Linked DNA regions of Homo sapiens. The protein of the gene in region 4 interacts with the protein of the main gene of each other region in a biochemical or structural test. Each region holds a gene or a part of one and is shown on either strand. Other genes may lie near its edges.

What was found.
Region 1: the proteins of SGK1 (region 4) and NHERF2 form a complex in vitro, tested with the Homo sapiens proteins (2 studies listed by BioGRID, with this or other methods).
Region 2: of the proteins of SGK1 (region 4) and PDK1, one has a biochemical effect on the other in vitro, tested with the Homo sapiens proteins (one study listed by BioGRID).
Region 3: of the proteins of SGK1 (region 4) and MAPT, one has a biochemical effect on the other in vitro, tested with the Homo sapiens proteins (3 studies listed by BioGRID and IntAct).

What each region holds. Positions count from the first base shown.
Region 1 is NC_000016.10:2,036,883-2,039,551, reverse strand, and holds the end of NHERF2 (Na(+)/H(+) exchange regulatory cofactor NHE-RF2), read right to left. Parts: intron 2,598-2,669; coding exon 2,554-2,597; intron 2,015-2,553; coding exon 1,952-2,014; intron 1,796-1,951; coding exon of another isoform or gene 1,766-1,795; exon of another isoform or gene 1,727-1,765; coding exon 1,568-1,726; 3' UTR 526-1,567; downstream 1-525.
Region 2 is NC_000002.12:172,559,050-172,566,093, reverse strand, and holds part of PDK1 ([Pyruvate dehydrogenase (acetyl-transferring)] kinase isozyme 1, mitochondrial isoform 2 precursor), read right to left. Parts: intron 3,875-7,044; coding exon 3,803-3,874; intron 3,354-3,802; coding exon of another isoform or gene 3,294-3,353; intron 1,984-3,293; exon of another isoform or gene 1,964-1,983; intron 1,592-1,963; coding exon 1,407-1,591; intron 1,117-1,406; coding exon 1,021-1,116; intron 1-1,020. UniProt on the Homo sapiens protein: Kinase that plays a key role in regulation of glucose and fatty acid metabolism and homeostasis via phosphorylation of the pyruvate dehydrogenase subunits PDHA1 and PDHA2.
Region 3 is NC_000017.11:46,023,510-46,028,834, forward strand, and holds the end of MAPT (microtubule-associated protein tau), read left to right. Parts: intron 1-446; coding exon 447-662; 3' UTR 663-1,607; coding exon of another isoform or gene 1,608-1,679; 3' UTR 1,680-4,825; downstream 4,826-5,325. UniProt on the Homo sapiens protein: Promotes microtubule assembly and stability, and might be involved in the establishment and maintenance of neuronal polarity.
Region 4 is NC_000006.12:134,259,095-134,266,138, forward strand, and holds part of SGK1 (serine/threonine-protein kinase Sgk1), read right to left. Parts: intron 3,055-7,044; coding exon 2,839-3,054; intron 1-2,838. UniProt on the Homo sapiens protein: Serine/threonine-protein kinase which is involved in the regulation of a wide variety of ion channels, membrane transporters, cellular enzymes, transcription factors, neuronal excitability, cell growth, proliferation, survival, migration and apoptosis.

The DNA.
Region 1 (2,669 bases), on a different chromosome or scaffold from region 4:
CTGGCCCCTCATGCTATCCACCGCCGGCCCCCCAGCTTCCCAGCCCGGACACCGCCAGCTCCTGAACTTTCATGCCCTCAAAGCCCAGCCTCTGCCAGGGTCCCACCCCTGTTTACAGAGCTACCCGGCCTTGAAAGGGACACTGGGGACCCAGGCAGGGCGCCACAGGGTACAAAGCTTGACCTGTGACTGCTAGAGGTCGCAGGGTGAATTGGGCAAAGGGTGGCCCGTGTGGGTGTTGTGTGGGGCCGGATGGCTTCACAGGGAAGGTGAAGGTGGGAGGCTGAGTCTGCCAAATAAGAGAGATGGGCATGGGCCCAGGATGTGCCACACAGCAGGGGGTCCCATGGGGGTCAGCGGGGGAGATGGAGCAGGGCTGGGAGCAGATGGATGCAGGGCACGGGCTCAGGAACGAGACCGTTTCCAGCTGCTGAGACTCGGGGAGGGGGCTCCCTGAAACAGCCTCATCCCTCCACCCCTCTCACCCCACGGGGAGGAGGCTCAGAAAAGACAGAGGCGTGTGGGTCCCAGGCAGGGCCTGTTTATCCTGAGAGCGCGCATGCGCTATGGCTTACGAGGCAACAGCGGTGCCGGTCGATCGGTGGTCGGTTCGGGGGTGCGGGGCCCGGGAGGGAAGTGCAAAGTCAACAGGGTGTCCACGGGGGAGCCCGCCAAGCAGGGCTGAGCCAGAGGCCAGGCGTCCTTCCCGGGTGCCGCTCTCACACACCTACGTTCCCCAGGCCTGGGAGCTGCCGCGCGGAATGAGGGGCCTGTCCAGAGGCCGCCCTCCTCGGGGACGTGGGGCCTCCATCCTCAGGCCCCTCGGAGAGCCCAGGCCCCCAGCAGGGCACAGGCGCACAGGGTAGCTGGGTGGGGAGCAGGGTGTGGCCTAGGGACCCCCACACCAGGGCAGGTGGGCAGGGGCAGCTCCTACGGCCACATCAGGCCTCCCTGGCCTTACCCAAGGTCCCCACGAAGAGGCTGGGCGCCCCAACTTGGCCACTGGGAAGTCCCAGGGACTCCCACTCAGGACGGCCGCTGCTGAGGGGAGGGGGCGGGGAGGAAATGGTTTGCAGAGAAAGGTTTGTTTTATTGCAATTATTTAGAGCGCGTCCCAAGGGGGAGGGGAAGGGGGAGGGGAAGGGGGGGGGTCTCTGGTATTAAGTGGAAACATGTGTGGAGCTGGAGATCTTTTTGGAAAAAAAGCAAAAACACAAATTCCTTTCAGTCAGCAGGCCCCGGCAGAGCAGCAAAGGCCCTCGCCCCGCGGCTGCCGCGCGCTCGCTCGCTCTCTCTCTGTCTCTCTCTGTGTCTCTCTCTCTCTCTCTCTGTCTCTGTCTCTGACTCTCTCTCACATCTCTGGGTCTCTCTCCCCCTATCTTGCTGCCACAGGCCCCCAGTACCTGGTGGGCAGGGGCAGGATGGGGGCTCACCGGGGCTGGGGCTGATTTCTGGGCAATGGCAGGACCACCCTCCAGTCCACTGAGGCTGGGGGAGCTCGGGGCAGGCTGAGGCCCAAGGTCCGTGCGGGAGGGGTCCCAGGGTCCCGAGACAGGCAGGAAGGGGCTCAGAAGTTGCTGAAGATTTCACGCTTCCTGTTCCAGTCCATCTGTGGCGCGCGCTTGTTGACTCGCATGGCTCGAGCCTTCTCCTTGGCCTCGGCCGCCGTGGGGCTCAGGTGGAGGCCGCTCTCCTGGAAGGGATCTTGCTTCCAGGCACTGCCATCCTGGGGTGAGCACGGTGGGTGGGGTGTCTGGAGTGAGCCCTAGTCCCACACCCCAGACGGTGGCCCCTCCTAGGGAGCAACCAACAGAGGCTGCCTGCTGGGGCTGGGGCTCACGAGGACTTCCTGAACAGAGACCCCACTGCCCGGGCTGACATCTCCACAGACGCCTACCCCAAGGCCTCTAGCAACCCCACGTGTGAGCTCAGGAGTGGAGAACATCCATACCTCAGTGTCCTTGTCGGAACCAGGCAGGTCACTTCGGGACGAGCACGCAGAGCCACCATTGAGCTGGGAAACCAAGGGCAGATTGTGGTTTCACAGACACACACAACACCTGCACACGCACACATGTGCACAGAGGCACACCCCCCCCCAGTGTGTGCTCCTCCACTCGGCAGGGGGCCTCGGGCCTCTGGTGGACTCCAGATGCGGCGGGGCAGGCACCGGGCGCCTGGCAGTGACAGGCAGGTGGCCTGGCCGGCTCATGGTGCAGAGGGGGTTCAGGTGCAGGAATGGCCGGCGTGAGCAACGCCTGGGGTGAGGCCACCGCCAGCTCCCTGAGGAGGCAGAGACTGGAGGGCAACTCCTTACCAGGTGGTGCCCAGGAGAGGACAGAAGGCAGTGGCCCCGACCCCAGGGGCCCCACGTGGCTTGTGTGTGGCACGACCCAGGATGAGACCCACAGGGGCATTAAAGGGAGGTGACAGGGCTAAAATCGGGTGTCACTAGCACACCTCGAGGACGGATCTCCAGGGAGAAGGGGGCCTCTGTCGGGCCTGGGTACCCCCAGAGGCACCCTGTGTCTCATGGGCACCCCACCCTCTTACCTGGGCAGGGCTGGTTCCATTGGTGACGGGTGACGGCAGAGGACCTGTGGGGACAGCGTGTCAGTGGCTGCTCAGCCACCACACCGCACCCACCCTGTGCCCTGGGCCGTGGCCCA
Region 2 (7,044 bases), on a different chromosome or scaffold from region 4:
AGGAAACACTCTTATCCATTGTTTGAAACCTTTTTGGAGATACCAAAATTTTATATGCATTTAAATGTTTTTAATTCTAGGAATCTCACCTCTAAAATACTAGCAAAAGTGAGCGTGTATTTAAGGATGTTCACAGCAGTACTGCTGGTATTGGTGGTAACAGAAAAAAATTAAAACAACCTAAGTGTGCATGAACAGGAGAATTAATTAACACATACTGATACATTCCATAGAGCCATTCAAAACCTTGGAGCATATCCAGATGTACTGAACAGCAAGATGTCTGTAAACTTGTAGAAAAAAACATAGAGCACCCCATTTTCTAAAAACAACAATGTAAGACCAACATCAATTGTGTATGTGTACAAGTGGTATAAATAGAAAAAAGTGTGAAATGATTCAAACCAAATTGTTATGAATTACTGCTCATAGTGTAAGAATTAGAAACAGGGCAGTAGGGACTTCAATTCTTTTTTAAGTGAAAGATACCCTCAGCTGGGCTCGGTGGCTCACGCCTGTAATCCCAGCTCTTTGGGAGGCCGAGGCAGGCAGGCAGGCAGGCAGGAGTTCCAGACCAGCCTGGCCAACATGGTAAAACCCTGCCTGCACTAAAGATACAAAAATTAGCCAGGCGTAGTGTTGAGCATCTGTAATCCCGGCTACTGGGGAGGCTGAGGCAAGACAATCGCTTGAACTCAGGAGGCAGAGGCTGCAGTGAGCTGAGATCACACCACTGCACTCCAGCCTGGGCAACAGAGTGAGACTCTGTCTCAAACAAAACAAAACAAAACAAAAAAGATATCCTCTATAGTATCACCAAACTTTGCCTAACAAATAATTCTATCAATAAAATAGTCATCCTATACATAATGCACAAATAATACTATAAGGTTATTTTCAAACCCATGCATTTGTGCCTACCATTTTATCTCATGATACAAATAGATGTTTTAATAGTAAGAAATAACAATAATTTTGATTTTTGTATCTTTTTTTGCAAGGAGAAATGTCAGTATTTACCTTTAATAACTTCAAGTACATTGCAGTTTGGATTTATGCTTCCAATGTGTTTTCGATGAGATGGACTTCCTTTGCCTTTTCCACCAAACAATAAAGCTATCCAAAAAGGAAAAAAACCAACAAAATAAGCTAAACCACCTAATGCTCTTTTCCAAATCTGAATACTGTTTAAATTGTACCAAACAGAACAAATATTTTCCTTTAGGATAAACATAGTATTTTACATTCAATAAAAACACCTTTCTTGATGGCAGTCTATTTATTTTTCTTAATTAGCCAAAAGGTAAAACTAAATTTCCTACCTAAATGGAACTTTCCTAAATAAATTTAAAATATGCCAACACATCTCATTTAGCTTCTTCTCTTGACTCATGAGGGACACTTACAGTGCTGATTGAGTAACATTCTAATTGAAATGCGACTCATGTAGAATCGATCCAAAAAGTACTGAACATTCTGGCTGGTGACAGGATCCACCCCAAAGCTCTCCTTGTATTCAATCACACCCTGGGCCATTGTGGGAATGACATCATTGTGTCGGTTTCTGATCCGTATCACAGTATCTGTAAAGCTAAACAAACCCATCTGTCAAAACAGCCAAATATTTTGACAAGTAAACTTAATACAAAAATATAAGCTTAACCAACTATGCTAGACAAAAAATCCCCAATTTAATAAAAGGAAAATCGGTTCATGTTTTCCTATACTTATTTAAATGTATTTCAGATCATAAAATATACCAAATCTATGAAAGTATACAGACCTCCAAAATAAAACTTTCAAGATTTAATTCTTTTCTTGGCTTCCTAAGAGTAAGGCTGCCACAAAACGTAATCCAAAAAATGTTAATGGTTTTAACTGTTATCAACTAAGGTCATCTGAGCACTGGCTAAGAGGATGGTATTCCAGAGACATTCTGCATAGGAGGAGACAAAGCACTTGCCTCTAGAGAACACCTGCTCTGCTCTGCAAGGAATCAAGATGAATGAGCCAATAAAGCCTGCCTGTTTTGGACCTATTCCCTAGGGTTCAAAGAGAGAAGGAAACACTTAGGACAGAAAAACAGAAAAGAATTCTCATTTCACTCATCCTATGAGTTTATAAAATGGGAGAGGAAAAGTAAACAATTATATTAAAAGACAAATCTTCAAATCATCTAGTCTTCCCATCTCTGTCACTTAGAAGACACTGCATGGTTAAATAACTAAATAAAAGAGAAAATAAGTCTTTTTTTTTTTTGAGATGGAATTTTGCTCTTGTTGCCCAGGCTGGAGAGCAATGGCGCAATCTCGGCTCACTGCAACCTCCACCTCCCGAGTTCAAGTGATTCTACTGCCTCAGCCTTCCTGAGTAGCCGGGATTATAGGCATGTACCATGATGCCTGGCTAATTTTGTATTTTTAGTAGAGACAGGGTTTCTCCATGTTGGTCAGGCTGGTCTCGAACTCCCGACCTCAGACGATCCGCCCGCCTCGGCCTCCCAAAGTGCTGGGATTACAGGCGTGAGCCACCGTGCCCGGCCCAAGAAGTCTTAATTATGCAGTAACGAAACCAATTTTCTAACATAACCCATCTGAATTTACACTTCCAAATGAGTGCTTTCCTATTCAAAGTCATCATCCTGAGTACTATTAACTTATTCCAATGATGTTTCCACTGCTTAAAACATTTTTGGAATTCCTAGTTAGTAATGCGCTTCAAAACAAGACTGTTAAACTAAAATACAAACAACAAAACTCTTCAAAAACAACAAACAACTCATCATTCTAGTCACTCCTTTATTATTTTCTTTCTGCTTCAAAGAAACACAAATCTGTATTATTCTGCTTGACTACTTATTTTCCACAGCTCTGAATGACTGTTTTCAGAAGGCTCTATAACATAATGTTTACTTTTAAAGTAAGACTGCTTGGATTCTACCATTTGCTAACTATGTAACCTTAAACTACTTACCCTCTTTGTGCACAAACAGCATTATTTCAATGAATTGTTTTAAAGATTAAAAAACATCATTCATGTAAAGTCTGCTCAATACCTAAGCAAGGAGTAAACTCTTGCTGAAGTTATTTTCAGATTAAAATCATGTTTAAAAAAATGAAGTGTTACTGTTCACTTTAAAGACAGTCCAAAAAACATGTGTAACTAACTGAGGACAAGAGATGGTCATTACACTCTCAGTACCCTTCACTGCAATAAGCAGGTAGCTGCATAAGGCAAATACTTTGGTTTACCAATTCTGGTATATGGGTTATTAACATTGTCATATTACTTACATCATCTTGCAGGCCATACAGCATAAACTAGAGACCTGCAACCATGTTCTTCTAGGCCTTCTGTGTTTTAAAAAATGTTTTAATTAGTTACCAATCTTTCAAAAGTGAGAGATTTTACATTACAAATCTAGACTTGTAGCTTTCCTTTAAAATCAGAAAACAATCAGATGATATGGGCAGTATTTTCATATGGCAAAGATCAGCTGGGGCTGAAGGTGGTTGTCCATTAGAAGGAGCATGCACCCTCCAGGTGAACAGTCCAACTGGCACTGAGGCCACACCTACATTTCCACTGATCATCACACCTGAACTTTGTCTTTTGTTAAAGAGGAACACGAAGCATTTCTTATGCCTAGTCAAATTTGCTGATTGTTATTTGTCCTGCCTGTATGGGCTGCTACAGTCACATATATCACATGTTCTAAAGTAGTAGAAACCTAAAAGTTAACCAATTTCCCCCAAGTGACCTAATAATAGGTTTAAGAATAGGGTCAAAATAGTGAACTTACTCATAAATAGCTTTAGCATCCTCAGCACTTTTGTCCTTAAAATCAAGAAGCTCCTGAAGACTCTGGATATACCTAAAATGCAGATCAATAGGATAAGTTTGTTCTTTTATATTCTGAAAGTTCAATATCATGAAAATTAGCTCAAAAGCTATTTTTAGCATTTTATAATTTTTAATTTAGAATACTGCTATAAATTATGGTTGAAGTATAATTTTTACACCCATGCACATTCAAGCAAAGTGCTGGGAATGAATGGTAGAAGGTGCACATTTTCTCCTAAAAGCAAAGGTCAAATTTAAGAATTTTAAGATTTTCCGAGTTCTACATTCTAAAATGGCTTTTAATTTTTTTTTAATTTACCACTGTACATTACAGTATATATACTGATTATGCTGAGATCTGTCACCAGTAACTATGTGATCTTGGGCAAATGACTTAATTTGTCTTATTATCAGTAAAAGGAGGACAGCCTCTCTTGCTCTAAGACTGTATCTTAAATATCTGTGCTTTAAAACCTTAATTTTACATATTTATGTCCAACTAACAAGTATTTATTGAAAGCCTATAATCTACATGGTTCTTTTAAACTGAACAAAAAACACAAAAGTCATAAAAATGTACATTTTAAATTTATCTAACAATTCGAAGTATCAAAGCATCTGTTAAGGAATGAGCAAAATAGAGAAGGCCAAATGATTTTCTGATGGTCTTGCAGGCAAGTACAATGGCACTGCGGGGCCAGAGCTAAAAATAACTTGCTACCACTGAATTACTTTCTTCGACAGTGTAAGGGATCTGCTCCACTTGGCTGTAAGCACTTTATCTGCAACTGTCCTAACTTAGCAGGCATCTAGGAGCAATGGAAGTGCTTTAAAAACCTGTAATTCCATCTGTTGGTTTGGAAAGCTGTTTCTGACAAGCAATATGTCTTACTGCATTCCAAAGTTAAGGGATTCTGATAGCAGCTGCTGCTTTGCTTTAACCCTTAATTTCCTCTTAATTGGCAAGAACAACTACGCTCTCCATCCAAGAGATATTTGAGTACCTACAACAGGCACCGATCAGACCTCATGACTGATAAGCTTCAAAAAGCAGCATATTCTACTTCTAATGAAGAATTTTTTAAAAACAGGAAAAATCTTCCATGGAATATTATATTTTCTCCATTATATCCCATCATAATTACTAAACAAATGCTTCCCATTTAATCCACACTTATAACTATTCCATACTTGGACTAGATAGCATCTGATTATCATATATATAGCAGTCATATTTTGCTTTTTTAAATTGCGATTAGATCAACTTCTCCCATACGCTATAATGCTTACAAAAAGAAAACTTGAATCTCCATGAATCATAACTGGGAAATGCCCTGCAGCTAAACCTTTTCCATTTAAGACTTAACTCTGGGCAACTCATTTGTTTGAAGCATACAGTGCTTAAAAGAACAACACTTTTAAATCAGTAACATTAATGAAGGCTGTATATAGGTGGCTCCATGAGTGTATACCCTTAACATCTCTACTTATCTTTGGGAAGAGATCACACTTTTTCTACACAATTCCAAAAACTTCTAATTGTTTTAAAACAGAAAAATAAACATTTTAACTTTTGTAATTTATAAAAAGATACCCTTCAATAAACACAGTTTATTAAAAATACATATATCCTTTCATATATTTCATCATTCTGACTATAGCACGGTATAGCAGAGATGGACAAATGGGGGTTTGAATCCCAACTCCACTATCAATGGTACTGTCTTACGCAAAAGATTTAACCTTTATGTGCCTCAGCATCCTCATCTGTACAGAGTTAACCTGCCAGGTGCGGTGGCTCATGTCTGTAATACCAACACTTTGTGAAGCCAAGGTGAGAGGACTGCTTGAGCCCAGGAGTTCACAACCTGCCTGGGCAAAAAAGTGAGACCCCCATCTCTACAAAAAAATAAAAGAATTGGTCAGGTATGGTGGCGCATGGCTGTGGTCCCAGCTGCTCGGGAGGCAGCTGCCTTAGCAGGAGAATCTCTTGACCCCAGGAGGTCAAGACTGCAGTGAGCCATGATCACACTACTGCACTCTAGCCTGGGTGATGGAGACCCTGTCTCTAAAAAGAAAATAAATTAATTTAAAAAATAATAAACAGGCTAGACACAATGGCTCATGCCCATAATCCCTGCACTTTGAGAGGCCCAGGTGGGCAAATACCTTGACCTCCGGAGTTTGAGGCCAGCGTAGGCAACATGGAAAAACCCCATCTCTGCTAAAAAATACAAAAATTAGCTGGGTGTGGCATGCACTTGTGGTCCCAGCTACTCAGGAGGCCGAGGTGGGAGGATCACCTGAGCCAGGGAGGTGGAGGTTGCAGTGAGCTGAGCTGTGATCACCACTGCACTCCAACCTGGGTGACAGAGTAAGAACCTGTCTCAAAAAAATAAGTAGGCCAGGAGTGGTGGCTCATGCCTGTAATCCCAGCACTTTGGGAAGCCAAGGTGGGAGGATCACCTGAGGTCAGGAGCTTGAGACCAGCCTGGCCAACATGGTGAAACCTCTATTTCTACTAAAAATACAAAAATTAGCCAGGCATGGTGGCAGGTGCCTGTAATCCCAGCTACTCTGGAGGCTGAGGCAGGAGAATCACTTGAACCCAGGAGGCAGAGGTTGCAGTGAGCCAAGATCATGCCATTGCACTCCAGCCTGGGCAACAGAGCAAGATTCCATTTCAAAAACAAAAAGTAAATAAAAATAATAACAATGAATAAAATGGAGAGAATCATACCCACTGTGCAAGGTTGTTGAAGGGATTAAAGGCAATATACATAAATACCCAGTCATCAACAAATTGCAGACATTTTTTCTTATAATATCCTTGAAGATATACTAACATAAATCCTAAATTTAGCATCTGTATTTCAGTGCAGTTTTGACTGGCTTTCTCAAAATCAAGAAGTTGTGGAGTCCACGATTCAGGGCACAAGCCCAAATACATTGCCCCCACCTGCCCCCAGCCAAAAAAAGAATACTGCTACTACCTTAAGACTCTGGTCGGGCACGGTGGCTCACGTCTGTAATCCCAGCACTTTGGGAGGCCAAGGTGGGTGGATCACGAGTTCAGGAGACCGAGATCATCCTGGCCAACATGGTGAAACCCTGTCTCTACTAAAAATACAAAAATTAGCTGGGCGTGGTGGCACGTGCCTGTAATCCCAGTTACTCGGGAGGCTGAGGCAGGAGAATCGC
Region 3 (5,325 bases), on a different chromosome or scaffold from region 4:
GTGGGCACAGGTATTACCAATTGGAAGACAATAAAAACAACAGCTCCTGGCCAGGCGCAGTGGCTCACGCCTGTAATGGCAGCACTCTGAGAGGCTGAGGCGGGCAGATTGCTTGCGTCCAGGAGTTCAAGACCAGCCTGGGCAACATAGCAAAACCCCGTTTCTATTAAAAATACAAAAAATTAGCCAGGTGTGGTGGCATGCACCTGTAATCCCAGCTACTCGGGAGGCTGAGGTGGGAGAATCACCTGAGCCTGGGAGGTCAAGGCTGCAGTGAGGTGAGATTGTGCCACCGCACTCTAGCCTGGGCGATAGAGCAAGACCCTGTCTCAAAAACAAACAAAAAACAGTCCCTGGCACTCTGGGCCAGGCCTGGCAGGGCAGTTGGCAGGGCTGGTCTTTCTCTGGCACTTCATCTCACCCTCCCTCCCTTCCTCTTCTTGCAGATTGAAACCCACAAGCTGACCTTCCGCGAGAACGCCAAAGCCAAGACAGACCACGGGGCGGAGATCGTGTACAAGTCGCCAGTGGTGTCTGGGGACACGTCTCCACGGCATCTCAGCAATGTCTCCTCCACCGGCAGCATCGACATGGTAGACTCGCCCCAGCTCGCCACGCTAGCTGACGAGGTGTCTGCCTCCCTGGCCAAGCAGGGTTTGTGATCAGGCCCCTGGGGCGGTCAATAATTGTGGAGAGGAGAGAATGAGAGAGTGTGGAAAAAAAAAGAATAATGACCCGGCCCCCGCCCTCTGCCCCCAGCTGCTCCTCGCAGTTCGGTTAATTGGTTAATCACTTAACCTGCTTTTGTCACTCGGCTTTGGCTCGGGACTTCAAAATCAGTGATGGGAGTAAGAGCAAATTTCATCTTTCCAAATTGATGGGTGGGCTAGTAATAAAATATTTAAAAAAAAACATTCAAAAACATGGCCACATCCAACATTTCCTCAGGCAATTCCTTTTGATTCTTTTTTCTTCCCCCTCCATGTAGAAGAGGGAGAAGGAGAGGCTCTGAAAGCTGCTTCTGGGGGATTTCAAGGGACTGGGGGTGCCAACCACCTCTGGCCCTGTTGTGGGGGTGTCACAGAGGCAGTGGCAGCAACAAAGGATTTGAAACTTGGTGTGTTCGTGGAGCCACAGGCAGACGATGTCAACCTTGTGTGAGTGTGACGGGGGTTGGGGTGGGGCGGGAGGCCACGGGGGAGGCCGAGGCAGGGGCTGGGCAGAGGGGAGAGGAAGCACAAGAAGTGGGAGTGGGAGAGGAAGCCACGTGCTGGAGAGTAGACATCCCCCTCCTTGCCGCTGGGAGAGCCAAGGCCTATGCCACCTGCAGCGTCTGAGCGGCCGCCTGTCCTTGGTGGCCGGGGGTGGGGGCCTGCTGTGGGTCAGTGTGCCACCCTCTGCAGGGCAGCCTGTGGGAGAAGGGACAGCGGGTAAAAAGAGAAGGCAAGCTGGCAGGAGGGTGGCACTTCGTGGATGACCTCCTTAGAAAAGACTGACCTTGATGTCTTGAGAGCGCTGGCCTCTTCCTCCCTCCCTGCAGGGTAGGGGGCCTGAGTTGAGGGGCTTCCCTCTGCTCCACAGAAACCCTGTTTTATTGAGTTCTGAAGGTTGGAACTGCTGCCATGATTTTGGCCACTTTGCAGACCTGGGACTTTAGGGCTAACCAGTTCTCTTTGTAAGGACTTGTGCCTCTTGGGAGACGTCCACCCGTTTCCAAGCCTGGGCCACTGGCATCTCTGGAGTGTGTGGGGGTCTGGGAGGCAGGTCCCGAGCCCCCTGTCCTTCCCACGGCCACTGCAGTCACCCCGTCTGCGCCGCTGTGCTGTTGTCTGCCGTGAGAGCCCAATCACTGCCTATACCCCTCATCACACGTCACAATGTCCCGAATTCCCAGCCTCACCACCCCTTCTCAGTAATGACCCTGGTTGGTTGCAGGAGGTACCTACTCCATACTGAGGGTGAAATTAAGGGAAGGCAAAGTCCAGGCACAAGAGTGGGACCCCAGCCTCTCACTCTCAGTTCCACTCATCCAACTGGGACCCTCACCACGAATCTCATGATCTGATTCGGTTCCCTGTCTCCTCCTCCCGTCACAGATGTGAGCCAGGGCACTGCTCAGCTGTGACCCTAGGTGTTTCTGCCTTGTTGACATGGAGAGAGCCCTTTCCCCTGAGAAGGCCTGGCCCCTTCCTGTGCTGAGCCCACAGCAGCAGGCTGGGTGTCTTGGTTGTCAGTGGTGGCACCAGGATGGAAGGGCAAGGCACCCAGGGCAGGCCCACAGTCCCGCTGTCCCCCACTTGCACCCTAGCTTGTAGCTGCCAACCTCCCAGACAGCCCAGCCCGCTGCTCAGCTCCACATGCATAGTATCAGCCCTCCACACCCGACAAAGGGGAACACACCCCCTTGGAAATGGTTCTTTTCCCCCAGTCCCAGCTGGAAGCCATGCTGTCTGTTCTGCTGGAGCAGCTGAACATATACATAGATGTTGCCCTGCCCTCCCCATCTGCACCCTGTTGAGTTGTAGTTGGATTTGTCTGTTTATGCTTGGATTCACCAGAGTGACTATGATAGTGAAAAGAAAAAAAAAAAAAAAAAAGGACGCATGTATCTTGAAATGCTTGTAAAGAGGTTTCTAACCCACCCTCACGAGGTGTCTCTCACCCCCACACTGGGACTCGTGTGGCCTGTGTGGTGCCACCCTGCTGGGGCCTCCCAAGTTTTGAAAGGCTTTCCTCAGCACCTGGGACCCAACAGAGACCAGCTTCTAGCAGCTAAGGAGGCCGTTCAGCTGTGACGAAGGCCTGAAGCACAGGATTAGGACTGAAGCGATGATGTCCCCTTCCCTACTTCCCCTTGGGGCTCCCTGTGTCAGGGCACAGACTAGGTCTTGTGGCTGGTCTGGCTTGCGGCGCGAGGATGGTTCTCTCTGGTCATAGCCCGAAGTCTCATGGCAGTCCCAAAGGAGGCTTACAACTCCTGCATCACAAGAAAAAGGAAGCCACTGCCAGCTGGGGGGATCTGCAGCTCCCAGAAGCTCCGTGAGCCTCAGCCACCCCTCAGACTGGGTTCCTCTCCAAGCTCGCCCTCTGGAGGGGCAGCGCAGCCTCCCACCAAGGGCCCTGCGACCACAGCAGGGATTGGGATGAATTGCCTGTCCTGGATCTGCTCTAGAGGCCCAAGCTGCCTGCCTGAGGAAGGATGACTTGACAAGTCAGGAGACACTGTTCCCAAAGCCTTGACCAGAGCACCTCAGCCCGCTGACCTTGCACAAACTCCATCTGCTGCCATGAGAAAAGGGAAGCCGCCTTTGCAAAACATTGCTGCCTAAAGAAACTCAGCAGCCTCAGGCCCAATTCTGCCACTTCTGGTTTGGGTACAGTTAAAGGCAACCCTGAGGGACTTGGCAGTAGAAATCCAGGGCCTCCCCTGGGGCTGGCAGCTTCGTGTGCAGCTAGAGCTTTACCTGAAAGGAAGTCTCTGGGCCCAGAACTCTCCACCAAGAGCCTCCCTGCCGTTCGCTGAGTCCCAGCAATTCTCCTAAGTTGAAGGGATCTGAGAAGGAGAAGGAAATGTGGGGTAGATTTGGTGGTGGTTAGAGATATGCCCCCCTCATTACTGCCAACAGTTTCGGCTGCATTTCTTCACGCACCTCGGTTCCTCTTCCTGAAGTTCTTGTGCCCTGCTCTTCAGCACCATGGGCCTTCTTATACGGAAGGCTCTGGGATCTCCCCCTTGTGGGGCAGGCTCTTGGGGCCAGCCTAAGATCATGGTTTAGGGTGATCAGTGCTGGCAGATAAATTGAAAAGGCACGCTGGCTTGTGATCTTAAATGAGGACAATCCCCCCAGGGCTGGGCACTCCTCCCCTCCCCTCACTTCTCCCACCTGCAGAGCCAGTGTCCTTGGGTGGGCTAGATAGGATATACTGTATGCCGGCTCCTTCAAGCTGCTGACTCACTTTATCAATAGTTCCATTTAAATTGACTTCAGTGGTGAGACTGTATCCTGTTTGCTATTGCTTGTTGTGCTATGGGGGGAGGGGGGAGGAATGTGTAAGATAGTTAACATGGGCAAAGGGAGATCTTGGGGTGCAGCACTTAAACTGCCTCGTAACCCTTTTCATGATTTCAACCACATTTGCTAGAGGGAGGGAGCAGCCACGGAGTTAGAGGCCCTTGGGGTTTCTCTTTTCCACTGACAGGCTTTCCCAGGCAGCTGGCTAGTTCATTCCCTCCCCAGCCAGGTGCAGGCGTAGGAATATGGACATCTGGTTGCTTTGGCCTGCTGCCCTCTTTCAGGGGTCCTAAGCCCACAATCATGCCTCCCTAAGACCTTGGCATCCTTCCCTCTAAGCCGTTGGCACCTCTGTGCCACCTCTCACACTGGCTCCAGACACACAGCCTGTGCTTTTGGAGCTGAGATCACTCGCTTCACCCTCCTCATCTTTGTTCTCCAAGTAAAGCCACGAGGTCGGGGCGAGGGCAGAGGTGATCACCTGCGTGTCCCATCTACAGACCTGCAGCTTCATAAAACTTCTGATTTCTCTTCAGCTTTGAAAAGGGTTACCCTGGGCACTGGCCTAGAGCCTCACCTCCTAATAGACTTAGCCCCATGAGTTTGCCATGTTGAGCAGGACTATTTCTGGCACTTGCAAGTCCCATGATTTCTTCGGTAATTCTGAGGGTGGGGGGAGGGACATGAAATCATCTTAGCTTAGCTTTCTGTCTGTGAATGTCTATATAGTGTATTGTGTGTTTTAACAAATGATTTACACTGACTGTTGCTGTAAAAGTGAATTTGGAAATAAAGTTATTACTCTGATTAAATAAGGTCTCCATTCATGGATTCCAAGGACAAGAAAGTCATATAGAATGTCTATTTTTTAAGTTCTTTCCCACGCACCCTTAGATAATTTAGCTCAGAACAGGAAATGATAGTATTAATAAAAGCTGGACATCAGGATTAACAGCTCTCTCTGGGGCCCTGAAGGTGAGAGTTCTCAGACTTGCTCATTTGCAGTTGCTTCTTTGTGATGCTGGCAAACCATCCTAGTCCCATTCAAAGGGCAATACAAAGCCTTGTGGCTGACCTCACGATGCAGCACTCAGTTTGCAAGACCGGCACCAGTGTATGCAAACCTGAGAAGGTTGGGGATGAGGATATGGGATCTTTCATCCCTGGAAATTTAGTCCAGAGGCCTGGGGCTGGAGCAGAACACCAAGCCAATCAGCTTAATGAATGGCTTAGATTCCTGCTAGGTTTGCAGAGCTGCCTTCTTTCCTTTGGTACCTTATTATAGATTGAGGAGTATTTCTGCTAAACCAAG
Region 4 (7,044 bases):
ATTTACCTGCTATCTAAGATAAAGGAAAAGGGTAAATCACAATGTTGCTTTAAATTCCTTTCAGCTTTGTTTATTGTTTCCTTTTGTGTGGAATTTCACTGTTGCATTGATTTAAACCCAGCTCCTATCAAATGGGACATAGAGTAGGCCCTCAAGTAAACATTTAGCACTAGGCATGTGTGCTCTGTATAGGATATGTAGAACCCTCTCTCTGCTTCTAAGTCATAAATAGTTCTTTAGAGTCTAAGAAATTGGCAAACTCAGGCTGGGCGCAGTGGCTCAGGCCTGTAATACCAGCATTTTGGGAGGCTGAGGCAGGCAGATCACTTGAGGTCCGGAGTTCAAGACCAGCCTGGCCAACATGGTGAAACCCCATCTCTACTAAAAAAAAAAAAAAAAATTACCCGGGTGTGGTGTCAGATGCCTGTAATCCCGGCTACTCAGGAGGCTGAGGCAGGAGAATTGCTTGAACCTGGGAGGTGGAGGTTGCAGTGAGCTGAGATCTCGTCACTGCACTCCAACCTGGGAGAGCTGTGTCCATTCATTTACATATTATCTATGGCTGCTTTCCCTAGAAGGGCAGAGCTAAATAGAAGTTAGAGACTGTATTTTAGGCAAAGGCTAAAATATTTACTATCTGGCCGTTTAGATAAAAAGTTGACTCTATCCCTTGCATCAGGAGCGATAAATAGATGCTCTTGCATTTAGCGTCTTTATTGTTTTTCATGACAAACCTAGAGTTGAACCAACATCTGGCTAAAAAGCAAATGCACCATGACAAATGTTCATGGATCAGCAAAGTGCTAACCCAGTTATGGAAGTCTAATATAGTGTTACAGAGTCACAGGCTTAGCTAATATGTAAATCAGCAAACATGAGCAATAATGATTTATATTTGCATGGCATTCTATAGATTATGAAACATTTCATATCAATCTCATTTGATTTTTCCAATAACCGTAGAAAGTAGACAAGTAGGCTGGGCATTGTGCCTCATACCTATAATCCCAGCATTTTGGGAGGATCACTTGAAGCCAGGAGTTCAAGACCAGCCTGGTCAGTATGACAACACCCTGTTTCTACAAAAAAAATTTTTTTTTTTTAATTAGCCAGGTTTGTTGGCGTATGCCTGTGGTCTTATTTACTTGGGAGGGTTGAGGTGGGAGGATCACTTGAACCTAGGAGTTTGAGGTAACAGTGAGTTATGATTGCACTACTGCACTCAAGTCAGGGTTACAGAGCAAGACTCTGTCCCCCTGTCTCCCTGTCCCCGACCCCCACCCCCCCCAAAAAAAGGGCCGGCGTAGTGGCTCATGCCTGTAATCCCAGCAATTTGGAAAGCCGACGCAGGTGGATTACCTGAGGTTGGGAGTTTGACACCAGCCTGACCAACATAGAGAAACCCTGTTTCTATTAAAAATACAAAAATTAGCCAGGCGTGGTGTTGGGTGCCTGTAATCCCAGCTACTCGGGAGACTGAGGCAGAAGAATTACTTGAACTCAGGAAGCGGAGGTTGCAGTGAGCCGAGATCGTGCCATTGCACTCCAGTCTGGGCAACAAGAGTGAAACTCAAAAAAAAAAAAAAAAGAAAGAAAGAAAGTAGACAAATTATGAAACAGATTCAGCGACATTGCGTGATAACTCAGAGTGAAAAGGAACTCAGATTTAATGTCTTCAGTCTTTTAGCAGCTAAATGATTATTTTATCTCTGGAAAATGGTTACCTTGCTAAAAATAAAAAAGGTGAGCGGTTATTAACGTTTATCATTCTATGATGCACTGACTTGGAAGATCACTTACAATTAACTGTACTTTGTAATAACATGTTCTGTCTTCTAAATATTGTATTTTTATGTCAGTATGATGGTAAAAATAATATAAGCATTTTATATAATGGTTTTAAAAATCAAAATAAATATGGGCCTAATTAAGTTATAAGTTAAAAATATAATCTTAAATTTTTGAAATCTTAGAAACTGCAAGATGAATCAGTTATCTGGTTTTCTTGGATTAACAAAATTTTTAAAAAACAACTCTTGGAGTAGCAGGGAAAATAAGTCTTAGTAAAAATGTGAGTATATATGAGCTTGAGAAAAATAATGAAAAGTATACATAGTGCTCTGTAAATGGATCAAATCGTGTTGAACTAAATATTTCAATGGAAGCTACGAACATGTAGATGACTATTACAATCGTTGTATCATCTAAGACTTGATCTCCTGTGTGATCAAACCACTTCTGAGGAATTGCCAGTTTACCAACACATTGCTGTATCAGTCTTGGACCCACGTAAAACATTAATACAACATACTGCATGATTCAGCTAGATGACATTCTGGAAAAGGCAAATCTATGGAGACAGTAAAAAGATCAGTGGTTGCTAGGGGTCAGGGTAAGGAGGGGATGAATAGTGGAGGGCAGAGGATTTTTAGGGCAGTGAAACTTAACTGTATGATACTGTAATGGTGGATGCATGTTATTATACATTAGTCCAAACCCATAGAATGTATAACACCAAGAGTGAACTCTAACATAAAACTCTGCTAGGGAATGTTGATGGCAAAGTAGGTTATACGTGCATGGGGACAAGCGTATATGGGTAATCTCTGTACCTTCTGCTCAATGTTGCTGTGAACTTAAAGCTGCTCTAAAATATAAAGCCTACTTTAAAAAAATAACATAATGAGCTAACAAAGACCACAATTCTAGGTCTTCCTCAGAAGCTTTATAAATATGCATTAAAAAATTATTTTTTGGGTATACTCTGGCAGAAATACAAGAAAAACAAAGGCCCAGAATTTTTCCAGGAGAATAGATCCAGAGCGAACATGAACTTACTTCACACCCAGATTGAGTTTCCCATGAACATGACTCGTTCTCCTGAGGGAGAACCCCTCTTTGGAAAGCATGTTCACCCAGGCATGTTTGACACAAGGAAGACTCGAAGTCTGGCTCCCCTGGAGGGATGTGCACCATGGAGGAGCCGGTGTACTTCAGGCTGGGACTCTGATGCTTGTCCACACTGACCATTGGGCTCTTGATCCACCTTCGTACCTGCAATGTGCAAAAGGAAAGAAAAAACAAATGTGTTTGACTCCCTTTGATGTTTATTGGGGATTTGGTGGGAAATCTGGTGGGATGGGAGCTCATGAAAGGAGAACTCGGTCTCACAACCTGTCTATCTTTCAAACTCAACACAATTCGAATTGGTCAATGCTGTTCAGTCTCTTTCCTAGAGTATGCATTACATGGCTGGTCATTTCATCTTGCTGAGTCTGTCTCCGCATTTTTTTTTCACATTATTTTTTTCTTTTCTTTTTCCTCCTGCTTCCAGTGGGGTTAGAATTTTTTTCTTTTTAGAGATAGGGGGGTTTCACTCTGTTGCCCAGGCTGGTCTTGGTGTTAAAAGATCCTCCTGGACCAGCCTGCCAACATGATGAAACCCCATCTCTACTAAAAATACCAAAATTAGCCAGGCCTGGTGGTACACGCCTATAATCTCAGCTGCTTGGGAGAATCGCTTGAACCTGGGAAGCGGAGGTTGCAGTGAGCTGAGATAGCCCCGCTGCACTCCAGCCTGGGTGACAGAGCAAGACTGTCTCCAACCACAACAACAACACAACAACAACAAACCCTCAAAACCCAAAAACAAACAAAAACAATTACCCTGGCCAGGCGAGATGGTTTATATCTAAATAGCACTTTGGGAGGCCAAGGCAGGAGGACTGCTTTAGCCCAGGAGTTTGAGACCAGCCTGGGCAAAATAGCGAAACTTTGTCTCTACGAAAAAAATAACTTTTTTTTTTTTTTAAAGAAAAAGATCCTTTTGCCTCTTAAAGTGTTGGGATCACAGGTATAAGTCACTGTGCCCAGCCTGTCTCCTCATTTGTAAGATTCAGGTAATAATATTTCCTCCCAAGCTGTGAAAATGCTACCATGTTTTACAATGTTCAAGTACTTTGCCTGGCACATGTTTGGTGCCCAATAGATAGTGACTATTTTACTTTGACCCTTATTATTATGATTATGATGACAGAAATTTAGTTCACACATTTCTAAGGTGAATTACTAGTTATTCTTACAAGGGAAAATACTAATCTCATAGTTTACAATCTAATCCATTGCTAAGCAAATACATATTCACTATTATTATTGTTATTGAGACAGGATCTTCCTCTGTCACCCAGGATGGAATGCAGTGGCCTAATCATGGCTCACTGCAGTCTTGAACTGCTGGGCTCAAGCAATCCTCTCACCTCAGCCTCTGGAGTAGCTGAGACCACAGGCTCGCACCATCACACTACTAATTTTTTTTTTTTTTTGTAGAGATGAGGTCTCACTAAGTTGCGCAGGCTGGTATCAAACTCCTGGGCTCAAGTGATCCTCCCGCCTCCCAAAGTGTTGGGATTACAGGCATGAGCCACTGAATCCGGCCCATATATACTACTGCACAACTTTGATTATAAAAGAAATTGCTTCTGGCTAAGAAATTAGCTCAAGTTTGTTTTTAAAGTTCTAAAACTCACCACTTGTCTTGCTTGCTTGTAAAATCCCTATAAGATACAGAAAGAAGTATAAAGCTATTCTAATATTAACAGGCATGGTATTTATACAGCATTTCAAAAATCAAGGCACTTTTTAAAGTGTTTGATGTGTATAGTTTTTAATCCTCAGAACAGGCAGGGTGAGGTGGCTCACACCTGTAATCCCAGCACTTTAAACTTTGGGAGGCTAAGGCAGGCAGGTCACTTGAGGCCAGGATTTTGGGACCAGCCTAGCCAACATAGCAAAACCCCATCTCTACAAAAGAAAATAAATAAGTAAATGAAGAATAAAAAATTAATTAATTAGTCCTCAGAAAAGTTTTATAAGAAAGGTACTATTTTCAATCCCATTATACAGATGGAAAAACAAACGCATAGAGATGTGAAGCAAATTTCCCCAGGGCACAGTGTTGTTATGGAGTAAAGGCGGGATCCAGGCACCTTGAATCCAGAGTTTATAAACATGCAATTTTCTTTTCTTTCTTTTTTTTTTTTTTTGAGACAGAGTCTCGCTCTGTTGCCCCTGGCTGGAGTACAGTGGCGCGATCTCAGCTCACTGCAAGCTCTGCCTCCTGGGTTCACGCCATTCTCCTGCCTCAGCCTCCCGAGTAGCTGGGACTACAGGCACCTGCCACCATGCCTGGCTAATTTTTTGTATTTTTAGTAGAGACCGGGTTTCATCGTGTTAGCCAGGATGGTCTCGATCTCCTGACCTCATGATCCGCCCACCTTGGCCTCCCATAGTGCTGGTATTACAGGCTTGAGCCACTGCGCCTGGCCATGAGCATGCAATTTTCTAAGAAGCACTGAAGTGTTGTTAAGACTTATGGTCACTGGTGCTTGAAATTTATTTTGATTTACTATTTCACTTTCATGCTCTTCAAAACTCCTGAGGATTCTTTTATATTCAACCAATTAGTGAAATTAGCCTATAGCAAAAGGACAAAGAAGTAAAATCACAGTACTGAATTTTAGTTAGTGATGCTACAATTATTATTATTATTATTTTTGTTGTTGTTGTTGTTAAAGGGTCTTGTTTTGTTCCCCAGATTGGAGTGCATTGGCACGATGACAGCTCACTGCAGCCTTAACCTCCTAGGCTCAAGCGATCCTCCCACCTCAGCCCTCCCAAGTAGCTGGGACTACAGGCGTGCACCACCATGACTGGCTAATTATTTTTAAATTGTTTTGTAGAGACAGGGTCTTGCTATATTGCCCAGACTGGTCTTAAACTCCTGGCCTTAGGCGATCCTCCCACTTTGGCTTCCCAAAGTGTTGGGATTACAAGTGTGAGCCACCATGCCCAGCCTGCAATTAACTTTTTAAAAAACACTGAGGATAAACTAAAATTGCAATAGCAATAATGTTTAAGCAATTTATTATATTACTTGATAGAATATTTTGCTATCACTAAAATTAAGTATTATGAAGACTGTGAAAATATGAAAAATATTTAGAACATAATTATATGAGAAAAGCCAAATACAAAACTGTTTAATTGCTATAATCACAAATGTAAAAACATATGTACTAACTATAGGCCGGGTGCAGTGGCTCACGCCTGTAATCCCAGCACTTTGGGAGGTCGAGGCAGGCAGATCACCTGAGCCCAGGAGTTCAAGACCAGCCTGGTCAACATGACAAAACCCCATCTCTACAAAAAACACAAAAATTAGCTGGGTGTAGTGTTGGGCACCTGTAATCCCAGCTACTCAGGAGGCTGAGGCAGGAGAATCGCTTGACCCCTGGAGGTGGAGGTTGTGGTGAACCAAGATCATGCCATTGCACTCCAGCCTGGGCAACAAGAGTGAAAACTCTGTCTCAAAAAACAAACAAACAAACAAACAAAAAAAATATATATATACACATATATATTTTATATATACATATATATTTTATATACACATATATATTTTATATATATACATATATATTTATACATATACATATATACATATACATATATATTTTATATATATACATATATATATATACATATATATATACACAGAAACACTATAGACATAAAGTAGGAGAGTTAAGAGGCAAAATAGAAACTGCTGTGTTTATTGTTAGTATCATGGGTGTTTTATCTGTTTTTACAACTCTTCGTACTTTAACTTTTAAAAGAATAATATTTTATCAGAATCATAAATGTATATATATATATACATTTCTTTAAAAAATAGAGTCTCACCATGTTGGTCAAGCCAAGCTGGTTAGAACTCCTGGGCTCAAGTGTTCCCCTCCCAGCTCAGCCTCCCAAAATGCTGGGATTACAGGCGTGAGCTACCACATCCAGCCACAAGTGTCTTTTAATTGCTTTATTTATTTATTTCTTTATTCATTTATTTATATTTATTAAGATGGAGTCTCTGATTGTCACCCAGGCTGGAGTGCAGTGGCGCGATCTCAGCTCACTGCAGCCTCCTCCTCCCTGGTTCAAGTGATTCTCCTCCCTCAGCCTCCTGAGTGGCTGGAATTACAGGCACCGTGCCCC